2 separate regions of the Homo sapiens genome follow, and region 2 is linked to region 1. Evidence: fine-mapped expression QTL. A gene starts in region 1. The other region holds a variant in brackets. All regions are shown on one strand. Distances are from middle to middle. Region 1 holds the start of EDAR (ectodysplasin A receptor). Region 2 overlaps EDAR (ectodysplasin A receptor).

Region 1 (2,907 bases):
AACAGATTAGCCCAGAATACCTCCCATTCATTTTCCCAGGTTCCTAATTTAATAATTTCAGTGACTTTAATTTATCACAGACCCTCAGTCTGAACTCGGCATGAGCAGGGTAGACAACCAAACCTGAAAATTCAAGTTAAAATTCTTGTTTGGGAGCTTATATTATCTAGATTAATCATCCACAAGGATCAAGTCAGCTAAGTAACTCTGGTTCAGCTTAATCTCTGTGGAGGCAGAATTAGTCCTTTACAGTCTAGGTCCTTGCCCCAGCCCCATACATTTCTGTCTGCTTTTTTCTTTTCTTTTCTTTTCTGTTTTGAGACAGATTCTCGCTCTGTTGCCCAGGCTGGAGTGCAGTGGCACAATCTCGGCTCACTGCAACTTCCATCTCCTGGGTTCGAACAATTCTCCTGCTTTAGCCTCCACACATGCCACCACCGGCTAATTTTTGTATATTTTTTTTTTTTTTTTTTTTTGAGACGGAGTCTCGCTCTGTCACCCAGGCCGGACTGCGGACTGCAGTGGCGCAATCTCGGCTCACTGCAAGCTCCGCTTCCCGGGTTCACGCCATTCTCCTGCCTCAGCCTCCCGAGTAGCTGGGACTACAGGCGCCCGCCACCACGCCCGGCTAATTTTTTGTATTTTTAGTAGAGACGGGGTTTCACCTTGTTAGCCAGGATGGTCTCGATCTCCTGACCTCATGATCCACCCGCCTCGGCCTCCCAAAGTGCTGGGATTACAGGCGTGAGCCACCGCGCCCGGCCTAATTTTTGTATTTTTAGTAGGGACGGAGTTTCACCATGTTGGCCAGGCTGATCCCAAACTCCTGACCTCAAGTGATCTGCCCGCCTCAGCCTCCAAAGTGCTGGGGTTACAGGTGTGAGCCACGGAGCCCAGACTGTTTCTTTCTTAAGCTCTTACTTTCTCATGTGTGAGTTACCTTGTAGGTTTCCAAGGCAGAGGGGACAAGATGGAAAAGGAGAACACAGAAATCTAGCCTGGAGGAGCTGCTCTGTTCCTGTATTTATCTGTGTAGGTGTGAATGAGGGAGAAAATGACAAGAGAATGACATTATTTTAAGGCTGTTTTCCCCCCCCCAATCATTTACTTTTTGAGAAATAATTGCCCAATACTGAAAGGTATGTCCTTTCAAAATGTTGATGTTTCAAATGGCTTCCTAATTACCTAGTTATACGGGGGGTGTGTATGGTTATCTGAAGTTACATGGGTATACACTGGTGGTGTGAGGTGTCCAGAGAGAGGAAAGGAAGAGCAGTCCTGGTGGCTCAAACCCTGAGGGATGTGCGGGGGATGGGTGAGAATGTGAACAGACATGTTGGAAGCTGAATCCGTGCAGTGGCACCCATGCCTGTAGCCATCTCAGTGGGGGGTCCTTCTACGAACAAGCTTTGATTAATGATATTTTAATGCTAGTTTAGCTTTTTAGCACTCCCACGCCTAAAGGCTCTGATAGAAGCAAGGCCCCCACCCCTGCAAAAAAAAAAATCCATGATTTTTACGCATTCCAACAGATCTCTTAAGGGGCAGACGGCCGGAGAGCCAGGTGTGCCAGGGACCTATGGCAGCAGGGCTGAACGTGCCCGCTCCAGCCTCTCCAGTGCTGGGAGAGACCTCTAGATGGTGCAGGTGAGTTTGCAATGAGGGAAAGCCCCTCGGCAAGGACTGAGTTTCCAAACTTGCAGACAGGGCAGGGAGCGGTCAAGGAAGAGTTCCCGGGAAGCCCTTTAAACGGAAAGGAAGCGGGGCTAGTGTCAGAGAGGTGTGCCAGGTCCCAGGCAGCCCTGCTGGCCCCTAAGGACATAGAGTACCTGCTTCTGAGAGGGCTGCCACGGTGGCCACCTGTGAAGCCTGTCACCCAGAACTGGATGGTACCTGACTTTCTTCATAGACCCATCTTCTGCTGGGACTGAAGCTGACCTCCAACAGAAGCCAGGTAAGCCCTGGTCCTTTCCTCTGGTTTTCTAAACTCTTCAGCTGTGGCCGAGACGGAGGTGTCATGGGCTGGGAGAGAGGCTGGGTGCATTTTTGAAATGCATGTCATTTTTGGGTTGCGTTTGAACAAGCTTTACCGATTGCAGTATGTCTGCGCTACCAGTTCTAAGACCTGAGATTGTTCCTTTGTTTTAGAAAAACATCAGAAACCCTGTTTTGCTGTTGGTTGCACATTTGGTTAGGGAGACAAATTCTGTGTGTGCTTCACAGGCTTTAAGATTTGGGCTACTGAAGCAACGGGTTCCTCCAGGGAGCGTGAAAAGTATGTTTCTCAGGTTTGCCCCTGTGCCCGGCTCACTGGGGAAGGCAGGCGCGGCAGGGACTCTAGCTGGGCTCTGTACCTGCCTCCAACTCTGCGTACCCGCTGTGACCTAAGAGACCTTCCAAGTGGGGTTTCCAGTCGTGTCTGAGACCCCCCATATCCTGGCCTCTGTGTTGGTGGCGGGGGAGCGGGGAGAGGGAGAGAAGGAGGGGAGTGGGTACCTATTTGTGATGATTGAGGTTTTCATTTCCAGCCAAGAGGTTCCTCTCAACACTCTGACAGACCGTGGGGTGGGTTGGGCTCCTAGACAGGAGTCGGCTCTGATTCAGTCGGCTCTGATTCCCAGCCTCCTGCAGCAGCCAAGCTTTGAGATGTCAGCTCAGGGAGAAGCGGGTGGCTGGGCAGGGAGGTCAGCAGGCGAGGTTCCCACTGGGTTTCCCTGCCCATGTTGTGCTGGGTCAGCAACAAGAGGGACAGTTAAAATCAACAAGCAGGGCAGATGCCGGTCAGTGGGCAATCCCACACAGCCAGGGGTACACGCATGTGAGGAGACGTACGGAGAGACAGGAGCACCACCGTCCTCTTCCCCAGTCCCCAGGCCACTGCTCTGTGGCTCTCAAGTGGCATTTTTG
Region 2 (2,907 bases), 24 kb after region 1:
GTAATCTGAGCACTTTGGGAGGCCAAGGCAGGTGGATCAGTTGAGGGCAGGAGTTCAAAACCAGCCTAACCAACATGACAAAACTCCGTCTCTACTAAAAATACAAAAATTAGCCTGGCATGGTAGCGGGTGCCTGTAATCCCAGCTACTTGGGAGGCTGAGGCAGAAGAATTGCTTGAACCTGGGAAGCAGAGGTTTCAGTGGGCCAAGACTGTGCCACAGCACTCCAGCCTGGGCAACAGAGTGAGACTCCATCTCAAACAAACAAACAAACCCATGCACAATTGGCTGGTCTTTGGGACAAACCCCAGTAAAGAGGGTCCCTCTCTGTCTCCCTTTCACTTCATCATGTTAGTGGAGTTGTTTGTCCTACTCAGCAGTTTAGCCAAGAATAGTGGTCCCCAGGCAATCAATCCTCCCTCCACTGTGCTCCCTTCCAGGGCTGGCACTTGGCCTCTGCCAGCAGGCCATGTGGGCTCAGTAGCTTGGGAAGCCCTTCTCTACAGGCAGAGCCAACACAGCTGAAGCTCATTTTCTCAGAACCCCTATAGCCAAACACAGTAGTGTTCCTGAAGACAGTAGGGTTTCCTTACTATTTGAATGCACTTGGGCACCGTAGAACTCTCTGATGACTATTGTCCAGACAGAAGATGACCTCTTCCTCATAGTCTTCAGGTTGAAAGAGCACAGGGTATGGCTGAGACCACAGGCTCTGACCCCACATAACTGCACCGGGGCCCGCGAGATGAGGCATAGGCCTTCCTGTGCCCTGTGAGGAGTCACTCCAGAGGAGCTCTGCCTGCGGCTGGCCTCCAATGCCACTGCATTTCTTAAGGCTTTGAAGGGACTTAATGCCAGTCTCAGCATAGTAAATCTAAACCCTTCACCCAAAGTTCATGTGTTAATTGCAAAGATCATCTGACTTTAAAATATTGATAATAGAAATGACAAAGACGGAACTTGAGTAGGCAACAACATGCAAGGCAGACAGGTCTTTGCATTCTTGAAATTTGATACTTAAGATGACAGGGGCAATAAAAGACCAGGAGGAGAGGCTTGCTTCAAAGTTGGTCTTATCAAAACACCTTGAGGTGTTAATGACTTTCTTAACAGAACTCCAAGGCTATAAACTGCTTTAGATCCAAGGATATGGTGATATTGAATGTTTTAATTGTGGTATTAACAGCCCCAGTTGTAAAAGGGAAGGTGTCACTCAAAGATGAGGGACAAGGCCTGAATTTTATAACCGAATTTAATTGGCACTGATTTGACGTTGATAGTACCTGGTTTTTCCAGTTTTCAGGAAATATTTCTTTGCCTGGGGGGAGAGGGGGGAGCACAGAAGGGAAAGGTGGAGGGAGAGTACATGATGCAGGAGGGGAGGAGAGGGTGCTGCACATCAAAAGGCCCATCTTGAATTTCCTGTGATGTGCTAAAACCCCAGCCCCCCACCACCACATCAATGCACAGAGCAGTCACACCTCTCCTACATCAAACCCCAATTACTACACACCCAGGGAAGGTGCCCAGCTCTCCCACTGCAGCAGTCACCCAAATGAGAAGGAAGGAGGCATACAGACACCCAAAGGTAAGAGGAAAAGACCCAAAGCCAGTAGAGCCCAGGAGGAGAAAATCCTGATGGGGTAAAAACCTTCTAAGGATCTTCCTGTCTGTAATGTTTTTCTCTCCCCAAAAGACCTGTATCTGGGAACAACTGGGTCATTTATTATCTTTTTTTTTTTTTTTGAGACGAAATCTCGCTCTGTCTCCCAGG[T/C]TGGAGTGCAGTGGCGTGACCTCGGCCTCCCGGGTTCATGCCATTCTCCTGCCTCAGCCTCCCGAGTAGCTGGGACTACAGGCACCCACCACCACGCCCAGCTAATTTTGTTTTTGTATTTTTAGTAGAGATGGGGTTTCACCATGTTAGCCAGGATGGTCTCGATCTCCTGACCTCATGATCCGCCTGCCTCGGCCTCCCAAAGTGCTGGGATTACAGTCGTGAGCCACCGCGCCTGGCCCATTTGTTGTCATTAAAAGATATAATCATGACACTTTGGACACTCAAAAAATAAATACCAGTACCCTTCACACACACACACAGACACACACATGCTTGCGTGCACACACACTTTTCTAAGTGGGTGGCATAGTTAAAAAATGTTTGGAGGAATATTAAAGTAAGTTTTTAGAATGTTCATGTAAAAGAGGCAGGTTGTGCTATTGAAGAGAGTCTTAGATCATTAAAAAAAATTTAAATGTTAAGCTGAACTTTATAGGATTTAATTAGAATGAATGAACTGTTCCTTATTCCAGACGTGCTGTTATTAAGTATGTTTTTGTCATGCTACACAGTTTGTGGAATTATTTCCAAACATTTGGGGTCTGTGGCTCTCTGGAAGGTCTTCTGATTAGGAACCTCAGCTCTCTGGGTAGAAGCAAGCCAAGGGCTGCTGCCTGCTGTCACTTAGTGAGCACTGAGTGTGGCGTAACGGAGAGTGTGGATTCCAGCACTGGGATGCTCTCCTGTGGACACGCCTTCAGCACTTCTTCTTTCTGGAATTGGAGTGCTATTTGCTGCTCCATTTGCTCAGAGAAACCTAGTTCTTTAAACAGCTGCCCTTTGTTGTTAAAAGATTATCCTCATTTCAGTCACTGGTGACTGTGGTTTGGTTGGGCTTTTGGAGTTTGTTGGGGTTTTTTTCCCCCAAAGTACCTGATTTCCTCTTAGAGTAGGGACTTTTATTTCTCATATTTTGGGTTTCCTCTTCAGTTTAGGGAAAGATGAACAGCTCCATGACCTGATCCCTTTTCGTCACAGTTCCCTGTTAGTGGGACTGCTTTGGAGCCGTGGCATCATGTGGCAGAGACTGAGACTTGAACTGGAGTCCAGATGACCTGGCAGGGGCTTCT

What was found. PIP is the estimated chance that this variant, and not a neighbour inherited with it, causes the effect.
Region 2: its variant is the best candidate, but not a certain one, in a credible set for the expression of EDAR in whole blood (TOPMed, PIP 0.77).

Annotation. Positions count from the first base shown.
Region 1 is chr2:108,988,007-108,990,913 of GRCh38, reverse strand. EDAR (ectodysplasin A receptor) reads left to right here and starts at 1,694. Exons shown (of 12, transcript NM_022336.4): 1 at 1,694-1,954. It also overlaps a transcript of RANBP2 not described here. RefSeq lists an enhancer at 2,720-2,907.
Region 2 is chr2:108,964,304-108,967,210 of GRCh38, reverse strand. All of the region lies in intron 1 of EDAR (ectodysplasin A receptor), which reads left to right. It also overlaps a transcript of RANBP2 not described here. Among named protein-coding and RNA genes, the nearest start is that of EDAR, 23 kb to the left of the region's middle. The variant T/C (reference allele first, on the strand shown) is at 1,775.